Linked DNA regions of Homo sapiens. The protein of the gene in region 2 purifies or fractionates together with the protein of the main gene of each other region. This does not show direct contact. Each region holds a gene or a part of one and is shown on either strand. Other genes may lie near its edges. The genes, in order: CRYBB1, MOCS2 and CCDC134.

Region 1 (3,649 bases), on a different chromosome or scaffold from region 2:
AGTCTGCAGTCCGGCCTGGGCGACAGAGCGAGACTCCGTCTCAAAAAAAAAAAAAAAACAAAAAAAAAAAAAACAAACTCTAGCCCATTACCGAGGGCTGAGAGAGGTCAAAGAGTGAAGTGTCCACTCGCTGTCCCCTCTCCTGGGCGTCCAGCTGCCTGGGAGTAATGATAAGCATCTGTGGCACACCCACCAGGTGCCAGGCACTGACTCGGGACCACACCTAGATGATTCACAGTGCTGTAGGAGGCAGAGGCTATTCTTATGCCCACTTGACAGATGGAAAGACTGAGGCTCAGAGGGGGTGAGTCTCTTACCCAAGGTCACCTATTGGTAAGTGGCACAGCCAGGATTCAACTCAGGTTGATTGAGTTCATTCCTAAAGCTCTTAATCACCATGCTTCACTGCCTGTTCCTGTCTCTGTGGGTGTCTCTGGGCCTTAGTGACTCCCATATAAAACAGGGATAGTCATCCTTGGGCAGAGTGGTTGCCCTATGTCCAGCCTGTGTGTGCTGAGGTCAGGGTGGAGGGGCAGCCCCAGGACAAGATCCACGCAGCTCGTTTGCTCTTGTCTCCCCCACTTTGAAAGCCTGCAAGGGTTCCAGTCATCCTGTATTCTGAGCCCATTCCGAGATGAGCTTTGAGGTCAGACAAGCCTGGGTTTGAGTCCTGACTTCCCCTGTTTGCCTTGTTCAGTGTGCAAGCCTCAGTTTCCCCATCTTTGAAATGGGGAGAAGGATGGCCCTCACCACTCCTCACAGGATTATGCTGAGGTCTGAGGGAGATCATACAGCATGGGCCTGTTACCTTGTGGGCACCCAAACATGGCAGGTGACTCTGATGGTCACGTACCCACCTCCCTGCCCGGTGAATTTAGCCAACTTATCCTGGAGGCTACCCGGGACCATTTCTACCTCCTGCACCCTCAGTGTGGTCAACGCAGCCTCAGCTCCACCCTCAGCCCCAAAACCCAGCTGGAAGCAGAAGCTACCGGATGTGGCCAGCATGGGTTTTCAGGCTTTTTTTGGTACCAGTGACTCAAACCCAGAGTATTTCTCCTCAAACAAAGATGCAGCTGGTGTCTGACGTGTGCCTTGGAGCCGTGCCTGATGGGCATGGAAACGGGCCTGTGGTCCGGGGGCCTGGGTCTGTGTGGGCGCTGGCAGGGCCATGGGAAAAAAAGAATGAAGAGGGTGAGGTAGGCATGGGGAAAGTGAGGAGGCCTGCCTGCCTGAAACCCAGGAGACTGCAGCCTGACACCCAACACCATCATGTGACCTTAGGCTGGGGACTTAACCCCTCTTAGCCTCAGTTTCCATATCTTATAAATTAAAATTCCTGCCCTACCCTCTCTCCCTGCTTGCGGGTTGAAATGAGCCATGGGAGATAAGAAAAGGCATAGATATAAACATTTAAAATTTAGATCCTCACTGGTCCTGCTGAAGAAGATAGGGGAGATTTTAGGGGGACTTGGGCATGGTGGCAAGACCACATCAGTGTCTGTTTTTCCAGAAGCCTAGACCTCCAGTTTCCTTCTCCCTTTAATCAGGAACAGTATTAATTTGGAGGCTTACTCTGTGCTGTATCTGTTCCATGCATTCCCTCTTTTAGGCCCTCATAATCTCCCAACAAGGTAGATGCAACAAAGTAGATGTATCATTTCTTCTCTGTTACTAAAGCTTAGCAGGTGTAAGTGCTGCCCAAATGCATGCAGCAAATGGCAAAGCTTGGATTAGAATTCAGGTCTGTCTGTTTCCAGGGTCTGTCCTCTTAACTCCTACATGAAACCACCTTCCAAGGCTCCCTTCTTATTCACCCATGCGTCTATCCACCCATTTATTCATCATCCATCTACTTACCCATGCATCTACCCATTCGTCTATTGATCTATCCATACATACATCCATTCTCCATTTATACACACGTACCCACCATGTGTTCTCCATCACCCACCCATCCATCTATAAATCTATCCATCTACCCACCCATCCATCTACCCATCTAGCTATCCATCAATTCAACCATCCCTTCATCCATCCCTTTATCCATGCATCCATTCATCTGTCCATCTACCCATCCACCTATCCATCTATTCAACCATCCTTTCATCCACCCATCCATCCACCCATTCATCTGTCCATCCATCCATCTATTCTCCCATTTATTTCTCTTCTACTCCAGACCAGACAGGGCTGAGGCAAATGCAACTCTATTCTGGGAAGACAAACATATCTTTAATTTACTCCAGTGTGGTTAACTCATCTCTCAGACAAAGACCTGAGGCTCCTGTGATGCATTCTGTCTCAGCCCATGGTGATAGCCCATCATCCTTGTCTCCTTCTGGGGAGAGCAGGGTCCCAGCAGCCCCCTGGGAGAAGATGCTAGTGTCAGTGTCCCCTCATCCGTCTCTTTTTTCCTAAGAACTCTTGAACACACGGGGAGCAAAGGTCAAGGAGTTCCTTAGTCTCAGCTTTCTCATCTACGGAATGGGGATTGTCTTATCTACCCCACCTGCACTGCCACAATCCCTGGTCCCTGTAACACAAGCTCACTTCTTGTCCTTAATCAATCTTCACTGGGAAAGCCAGGAAAATCTTCCATCTAATTTCAAACTTCTAATTAGTCCATGTAAGGAACCTAGCATCTTCATAAGCGCTATCACATTATATTACCATAGGTATCTGAGGGTAGATATTACCATCATTCCCTTCCCATTGCCTCATACTAGTTACTGAGTATCTCCCGAATACCAGGCCAGTATTTACCCAGCAAGGATGCAAACACCTGTATCAATTTTTCCCTTACCCCTGTACCTCCGAGACTGTCGTTCATTTAATATATTTCATTTAAAATGATCCTGCTAACCACAAATAAACACATTTTAAAAGAACCCTGACACCACTTTTTACAAATGGAAGGCTAGTATTATTTCCTATAAGTAAAAGGTATCCATACAAAATTAACAATAAACACAAAAGTGGTATTATTATGTTGCTATTACACCATTGTCTGCTGGAGGTTCTGGGCTAGTGGTCTTTTCTCTCTTTGTTACAAAAGAAAAAAAGGAGAGATTAGTAAGTGTTAAAGGCACATTAACATCAAACGAGCCTTTCTCCTAGCTGGCGTCAAGTTTCAAATGTCTATGTGTTCCTTGGCTCCAAGTCCTGATAGTACTTGAAGCATGTATGAACCTTACATCTAGAGAAACAGTGTGCTCAGATAATCACACACATTTATCTCACTTAATCCTTCACCAACTCCAAGGAAACAGGCATATGAGTGTAGATGAGAAACAAAGGCTCAGAGAGGTAAAGTCACTTGCCCATAGTCACACAGCCTGTAAGTGTCAGAGCCTAAAATCAAACCCAGACATGTTCAGCCCCCTTTGGACTTTCCTACTGTCCTCAGGGCTGCCTTGCCAGGGGAGAGAGAAAGGCAAGTAGGGAGTGGGGGCTTCTACTAACCATATGTCTCCTGTCTGCCTCATGGTCCTTCTTGTATCCAGCTGGGTCGCCTTTGAGCAGTCCAACTTCCGCGGGGAGATGTTCATCCTGGAGAAGGGCGAGTACCCTCGCTGGAACACATGGTCGAGCAGCTACCGCAGTGATCGGCTCATGTCCTTCCGGCCCATCAAAATGGTGAGTGGCT
Region 2 (4,430 bases):
GATTTTTAAGAAGGGTTCTTGGGTATTGTGTTTTTTGAGTTTTTGCTGATTTAGGAGAATCCTGCCCCACCAGTTTGGCTGTAATATTATGGGATCATGCTTTTGTTCTCAGCCTTTTTTACACACTGCACATTGCCATCAGATGCCACTGAGGAGTCTAAGGCCACTATTGTCATTCCCTTGTTTTTATGCCTGGGTGTGAATATAGTCTTTATCCTTTATGTTTAGCAACTTTACCAGGATACACATTGGTATTCATTGCTCCTTGTCAATTTTTCCTACCAAGGACTCTCCAGCCTCACTTCTCATCACCTCCTTTGCTGGAGGCACACCTGCCTTGCCAACTACTTGCCCTTCTGTGAACTTATTATGCTTCTTCATATCCCTGTGGCTTGTCAGAGGCAAGTGAAATTTCTTCGTGCTCTACTCCCACTCTTGTCATTTACTGCCACCATTCTAGCAGATTTACCTTCTCAGCATCTTCTCACTCCCCAGGTGACACAACCACTTTCCCCTTCCACCCTTGAAATGTAACACAGATCCTTAGTATTACAGGGAATTATCATTCATATTTAAAACTCTCCTACCCAGGACTGTGAGCTCCAAGGAAAGGGACGTGTAACTTACATCCACTTAACGACGCAAGCAATTTAAAGCCAAGAGTTCTTGTTGGCAAGAATTGGGAAAGTTGGACGGACAGTATACAATTACCGAGCAGCCAATAAACAGGAAAAGTCATACAGTTCGAATGTTCTGACCAGGCGGATATTCTGTCTTTAAGAAACACTAATCATATACCTGGGAAAGAAAAAAATCTTGGGCCCCTTCAAACTGGGAATTACTCAGGGCAAATCTGCCTCCTATTCTATCCAAGTCACCTCTTTTGCTGACAAAGAATAGATGCATATTCTGATTGCCTCCTTTAGAAAGACTTATCAGAAACTCAAAAGAATGCTACTGTCTATTACCTACCTGGAAGCCCCCAGTTGGGGGGGGCGGGGCTTGCTTTTAACGGTCTCCGCCTTTCTGGAAGGAACTAATGTACTTTTTACATATTGATTGATGTCTCCTGTCTCCCCAAAATGTATAAAACCAAGCTGTGCCCTGACCACCTTGGGCACATGTCCTCAGGACTTCCTGAGGCTGTGTCACGGGCATGTCCTCAACGTTGGCAAAATAAACTTTCTAAGTTAACTGAGACCTGTCTCAAATTTTCGAGGTTCACATACCGTAGGTAAAAGTGTCAGAAGCCTAAAGGTGAGCCAGTGGAAAAGCCTGAAGACCCCTGCAAGGTTATTAGCTAAGCCTCCATAACGCAGGCGGCAAGTGTCCAGGAGTCTGGCGTCTGCTCGCCTGCACCACGACCTCCCTCCTGGGGAGAAGGACATGCATGGTAAGCCATTTCTCCATTTCCATACTGATTGCTTCCTCTCACCACCACGGCCCATCTGCGAAGCAAAACTAATCCTGGCGTGGAACAGGCCGCCTGAGGGAAACAGCTAGAGCCCGGCGCGGGGCGGAGCTGGTTGTGCGCATGCTCCGTGCAGGCGCAGGCGGGGGCTGAGCGCCGTCGGGTTACGCCTGCGCTCCGGGTGAGCCCGCGCCTGCGCCTTTGCGGCCGTGATTCGGTCCCGCTGTCCTAGGCGGGATGGTGCCGCTGTGCCAGGTAAGGGTGGCGGGTGTGCGTGCGGGCCTGGGTGCGGAGCCCTCCTCGACGTGTCTCTCCCGCCCTTTCCCTCCACATACCCAGCCTTGGTCAGTCGGACCTCCCCACTAGCCCCCAACCTGGCCGGCGTCTTGGGTTCGGGGGCGCCCCCGCCCCCGCCCCCGGGCCCTTCCTGTCTCCGGGCTTTACTGCGACTGCCCCAGCAGAAGTCGGGTCCTCTCCGAGAACTCTTGTCAGCTCACGGCAGCAAGGACGGACTCGTTCTGAAGGCGCCTCCACCTTTTATGACCACCTCTTTCCCAGATTATTCGTTTTGATGAAGCTAAAATTTTAATCTAAAAAGAAATGCACCTCATGGAGAATTCTTGTGAAGAACTGTGCTTCATCTGTGGATTTCTACACCCTTGATCATTTGCAAACCTGTAATTATTTCGTAAAGAGTTGTTTGCACGGAGTGACAGGTGCCTATTTTACTTCGTCGGATCCCTTACATACCAGGCTGCTGGCACAAGTTTGTTCTAGCAAATTCCAGTCTGTCGTGTGTTTCAAACCTACTTGCTTCTGTAAATGTCAGATTTACTATGTTGCATAACTTAATCCTTAGCGTCTGGGGACGATGTTATACAGACCGGAATCTAAGGTCATTTGACAACCGTGAGAAACAGGTTTTTCGCTTATTTATTCATTTATTTTATTTGTGTAACTCATCTCTTGACTCAAACATTTGTTCTTTGCTTACATATTTATAAAAGGTGCTATACTTTTATGTCAATTAAGGCAGGCTTAACATGTTTTCCTAGAAGATAAATACTTAGGATTTTAATGATGGCACACTTAAGTTTGTAAAACTAAAAGGCATCCAGAAATTAGTCTGAATTGTATTTAAAACAACAAGTTTTCAGAATTTGAACTTGTAGGTATACTGAAATTTTTTACGGGTTATTTAATTTTCTTTATAAAATTTGTCTTTGATTAAAGCAATACATTTGGAAAATGAGAAAACTGCTCAACATTGACAGTCAGAAAACGAGTATGAGTTGTTATTAAAAGCATTTTCTTTACTTTCAGGTTGAAGTATTGTATTTTGCAAAAAGTGCTGAAATAACAGGAGTTCGTTCAGAGACCATTTCTGTGCCTCAAGAAATAAAAGCGTTGCAGCTGTGGAAGGAGATAGAAACTCGACATCCTGGGTAGTTAAAAATTTGTAGAATGCATATGAGTAACACTTAGATATTTTCAAAATACATAAATGATAAAAGTAAAAAGGTTAATTTCGATTTCCGTGCTTAATGTCAAAAAGAATCGTTAGTTGTATTTTTTTTGGAACACCTGAAAAACTCTAAATGTGCACCGTATTTTAAGAAAGGTTAAAGATATTTTACCCCAAAACACAGTGAACCGCAGAGGGACATGATTATATTCTCTTTGATAATTTACAAAACACTGCACATGTCACTTCTGCAATTTTATAACATTAAATGAAATTGTTACAAATTCTGTTAAAAATGTGTGCTTTAAACATTTTGTTCTGCCCCTCTCTTTAGAGAGCTCAACATAGAAATTTCTAAGATTGAAAGAAAAATGAGTTACAACAAATCCTAGATGCTGCTGAATTTGAGTTTTTGTAATATTTAATTTTTTTTCTGGTTCTTGAAAAACCTATAATTTTACTTATGTCATTCCCACTTCAAGTTCTTTTTGGAACAAAATATAAAAGTGACTTATTTGAGGGTGATTCAGGAATATTAATGGTGTTACTTAGCTTGTATAGGTGTTTAACCTGGAAGTCCTAGTTCTGTGTAAAAGATACTCCATAATAAGTGTTTAAAAGCAAACCACTTCATGATTTCGTATCTTTTAAGTTGCTCTTACAGTGGCCTGATAATCAATAAAACACAGTGGGGTCTCCCATTCTGCTTTACCTGGAGGGAGACAGCAGGTCTTGTATACGTTTTCACTGTGCCTGAAAAGAAAGCTTACCATTGTTCAGGTATAAAGGAACAGCTAATAAAGCTGTGTTGCAGGTGGCTTTATGACCTATGCTATCTTTTTCATCTTTCTAAGCAACTTAATCCATATTCGAGTAGGATAATGTGTACAGGCATAGTTTGTGGGCAGTTATACTTGTGCTTGAACACATGGATAGAAGGACCCTGGAAAGGCCATGTACTGATTGGAAACTTTTCTTTTGACCTGGTTTGAGTGTTGCCTCCAGTCTGGTGGGTTTTTTGTGCATTTTTTTGTTGTTTAATTCCCCAAGGCATACAACATCCAATAAAGAGTTGACAGCAGTTTAACGTATCTTTGTGGTGTATAAGTATGTTCTTCAGTGGATATGTCCTTTCTCCATATACTATGTGTAAATTTAATTGGTAATTTTGCAGGTGATGCTTTATATAATTATATCTATGTAATATCTCTAATTGCAGCTGAAGCGATTTGAGGTCTATCATAGCGTTGATACTTTGAGTCATATTTTTTCCCCTTTAGATTGGCTGATGTTAGAAATCAGATAATATTTGCTGTTCGTCAAGAATATGTCGAGCTTGGAGATCAGCTCCTCGTGCTTCAGCCTGGAGACGAAATTGCCGTTATCCCCCCCATTAGTGGAGGATAGTGCTTTTGAGCCATCTAGGTATGTGAGATTTGTTTTTCTTAATCAGTCGTGTGGGGAAGGATCATACAGATGATAAAGTGTATGTGGTTTGCTGTTAATGTATATTCTTTGTAAGTCTGTCTGTACCAAATCTTTATTGATGCAGCA
Region 3 (3,649 bases), on a different chromosome or scaffold from region 2:
GCTCTTCCCTGCCTTTGAACCTCTGAGCACCAACTGGGCTTCCATCCCGCACTCCTGTACATGCTCTCATTCCAGGGGTTCCAGGGGGCTGAGGTGGGCTTTGAGAGCTGGAGACCAAGTTTGGGATAAAAGATGAGGACAGGCCGGGCACGGTGGCTCACATCTGTAATTCCAGCACTTTGGGAGGCCGAGGCGGGTGGATCACCTGAGGTCAGGAGTTCGAGACTAGCCTGGCCAATATGGTGAAACTCTGTCTTTACTAAAAATACAAAAAACTGGCCAGGCGTGGTGGTGCATGCCTGTAATCCTAGCTATTCAGGAGACTGAGGCAGGAGAATCGCTTGAACCCGGAAAGTGGAGGTTGCAGTGAGCTGAGATCGTGCCATTGCACTCCAGCCTGGGCAACATGAGTGAAACTCCGTATCAAAAAAAAAAAAGGGGGGACAGATACGATAGATGGAGGAAGGGATTGGAAGTGACAGGGCTAGGAGGGGCAGGAAGGAAGGGCTGTGGTGGCTGGAGGACTGGACTTGTCAAACCCTGGTGTCGGGAGGGGTGTTGGGTGTCTCAAGGGTCTAGGATTTAATTCTGCCTCCAGGCCAACAAGCTAGCCTGCTACTGTTTCATGGACACTGATAGGTCAGAGACATTGGACTGTATTACAGCAAAGGCACTAGCTAGACTGTTGGCCTGGTTGTGTTGGTTCATCTTGTTCCCTAACTCCCACGGAGGTGACACAGAGGGGCCAGGTGGGCGCTGTGCATGCAGGGGGTGTGCATCATAGCTGAGAACTGCCAAGCTGGAGAAATTCATGATTTTTATAGTGAACCGCAGCAAATGTGCTCTTTGGGAAGAGACATCACCACACCGTTCGAGGTTGCTCTCTGCAAACACAATCCTAAGACATGGCCCAGGTAAAGAGTGGTTAGGGCTTTGTATCTTTGGTGTGCCCTGCAAGAATATGCAGGGATGCTCAGGGCCATGATGGATTGCCACCCCAACAGTCTGCCCCAAGCCCAAGCCCTCCATGGCTTGGTTTAACTCAAATTTTCTTTTCTTTTCTTTTTTTTTTTTTTTTTTTGAGATGTAGTCTCGTTCTGTCGCCCAGGCTGGAGTACAGTGGCGCGATCTCGGCTCACTGCAAGTTCTGCCTCCTGGGTTCACGCCATTCTCCTGCCTCAGCCTCCCCAGTAGCTGGGACTACAGGCGCCCGCCACCACACCTGGCTAATTTTTTGTATTTTTAGTAGAGACGGGGTTTCACCATGTTAGCCAGGATGGTCTTGATCTCCTGACCGCGTGATCCACCCGCCTCGGCCTCCCAAAGTGCTTGGATTACAAGCGTGAGCCACCGCACCCGGCCTAACTCAAATTTTCACACGAATGTGCTATTCAGTCTGATTGATCTGACTGATAGAGGCTAGGACCAAATCTGTCAATTAGTCTCATACTTCATTTAATTAAGATTACTATCAACTATATTCTGAATAGCAGGGTAAGGCCAACCTACATTATTATTATTTTTTTTATAGACAGGGTCTTGCTCTGTCACCCAAGCTCTGTCACCCACCTAGCTTACTGTAACCTTGAACTCCTGGGCTCAAACAGACCTCCCACCTCAGCCTCCTGAGTAGCTGGGACGACAGGCCTGTGCGACACCATTCCTGGCTAATTAATTTATTATTTTTTTCAGAGACAGGTTCTTGCTGTGCTGCCTAGGGTGATCTCAAACTCCTGGGCTCAAGCCATCTTCCTGTCTCAGCCTCCCAAAGTGTTGGGATTATAGGTGTGAGTCACTGTGTCTGGCCCCTAACCTGCAATATTGAACAGGGTCCTGGACTCAACCAGCTGTGAAGGTCCTGGAGGACCAGTAAGTCTCATTTTGGATAATCAGGATATTGTCTAAGACCAATCTGTTATCCACGACCACCCACATAAGAGAGTTTAGATTGACCTGCCAATCTTTGATGTTACTGCCAATAAGTACAGGGGGCAATAGATGGACCCAAGCAACCCTCATGCCCCCATAAGGAGACATTCCATGACCCATTCTCTCCCACATGTTACGCTTGATTTGAGTCACCAGAACAATGTTTAGTTGAGCCTGAGGGCAGTGTCACTGTGGAGCTTCAGCCTCAGTTGCCTACATGGTATAATCCAAGGCTACTCAGACATCAGGAAAAGCAGATGAATTTGTATCTGTCAGGTTGAAACAAAATTGTGCTGGCTGGTGTGTCTGCACAAGGTCACTGTTGAGAACTACCTTTGATGGCATTAGACACAGCAGAATAGCTCAGTACTGACGTGTCCATGTGAGTTTTCCTATCATGTGGATGGAAATGAGACACCCAACAGTTGGCCATATTGACAGCTGCAGCTGCCACTGGGCTTGGGCAGACCCTAGGATTGTTTTGCCAGGTGGCAGTGATGGATCTAAGGGATAAAGAGAACATTAATTGTTCCCTGCACTTTCTGGGATCTAAGGTATATCCTCCCCAGGTGGCAGGATTATTGCTATAAAATCCATGTGTCCTTGGGAGACCGAGGTGGGCGGATCATGAGGTCAGGAAAATCAAGACTATCCTGGCCAACATGGTGAAACCCCGTCTCTACTAAAAATACAAAAATTATCCGGGTGTGGTGGCGCATGCCTGGAGTCCTGGCTACTCAGGAGGCTGAGGCAGGAGAATTGCTTGAACCCAGGAGGCGGAGACTGCAGTGAGCCAAGATCGCACCACTGCACTCCAGCCTGGCGACTGAGTGAGACTGTCTCACAAAAACAAAACAAAACAAAAAGCATATGTCCTATGCCAGCATCTATAGTTTCACTTTTTCTCCAGTTGTTGCCTACTATCACTTAGATCTTTCATTCAGAAATGTCAGGTATGAATGGGACCAGGGCATTTTTACAGATGTATAGAGACCTGTTATATCTCTTCTCTTTACCCACATGGGCCACTGCAGGGAAATCAGCAAGCAGGATACTCAGCCAAGTGGTCACAATCCTAACAATCTCAGGCTGTACCATTCCAACCAGAGACTCAGGTAGTTGAACCAGAAATATACAGTCCTCTGTTTTGTGCCACTCCTTGGTAGTGGGTATGTTACCATGCCAAGTAGAATGATATGTTTAGGTGGCAGTGGCAGTGATCTGGATGAAGTAGGCTTGATCAGCAGTTTGACTCCATTTGGTCTTTTCAGAGATTGAGCTTTATGATGGGCATCTAAACGAGTGAGCCAGGCTGTCTAGTTTGTCACCACAATTTGTTTCCATAGTCTGTGGCCCTAAAGAGGGGTGAGGGGTAGGTATCGCCAGGCATGGTGGCTCACACCTGTAATCCCAGCACTTAGGGACCGAGGCAGGCGGATTGCCTGAGGTCAGAAATTTGAGACCATCCTGGCCAACATGGTGAAACCCTGTCTCTACTAAAAATACAAAAATTAGCCGGGCGAGGTGACGCATGCCTGTAGTCCCAGCTACTCGGGAGGCTGAGGCAGGAGAATCGCTTGAACCCGGGAGGCAGAGGTTGCAGTGAGGTGAGATTGCACCACTGCACTCCAGCCTGGGCAACAGAGCAAGACTCTGTCTTAAATAAATAAATAAATAAATAAATAAATAAATAAATAAAAAGAGAGGGGTAGGTATCTTT

Evidence for each region.
Region 1: the proteins of MOCS2 (region 2) and CRYBB1 purify together in Homo sapiens (affinity purification with mass spectrometry; one large-scale study listed by BioGRID and IntAct). This does not show direct contact.
Region 3: the proteins of MOCS2 (region 2) and CCDC134 fractionate together in Homo sapiens (co-fractionation; one large-scale study listed by BioGRID). This does not show direct contact.

The regions. Positions count from the first base shown.
Region 1 is NC_000022.11:26,607,879-26,611,527, reverse strand, and holds part of CRYBB1 (beta-crystallin B1), read left to right. Parts: intron 1-3,465; coding exon of another isoform or gene 3,466-3,468; exon of another isoform or gene 3,469-3,506; coding exon 3,507-3,639; exon of another isoform or gene 3,640-3,649. Other genes in the region: CRYBA4 (beta-crystallin A4), read right to left, coding at 3,466-3,468. UniProt on the Homo sapiens protein: Crystallins are the dominant structural components of the vertebrate eye lens.
Region 2 is NC_000005.10:53,106,948-53,111,377, reverse strand, and holds the start of MOCS2 (molybdopterin synthase catalytic subunit large subunit MOCS2B), read left to right. Parts: upstream 1-1,620; 5' UTR 1,621-1,648; coding exon of another isoform or gene 1,649-1,666; 5' UTR 1,667-2,127; intron 2,128-2,734; coding exon of another isoform or gene 2,735-2,856; intron 2,857-4,156; coding exon of another isoform or gene 4,157-4,203; coding exon 4,204-4,301; intron 4,302-4,430. UniProt on the Homo sapiens protein: Catalytic subunit of the molybdopterin synthase complex, a complex that catalyzes the conversion of precursor Z into molybdopterin.
Region 3 is NC_000022.11:41,814,143-41,817,791, forward strand, and holds part of CCDC134 (coiled-coil domain-containing protein 134 isoform 1 precursor), read left to right. Parts: intron 1-3,649. UniProt on the Homo sapiens protein: Molecular adapter required to prevent protein hyperglycosylation of HSP90B1: during translation, associates with nascent HSP90B1 and the STT3A catalytic component of the OST-A complex and tethers them to a specialized translocon that forms a microenvironment for HSP90B1 folding.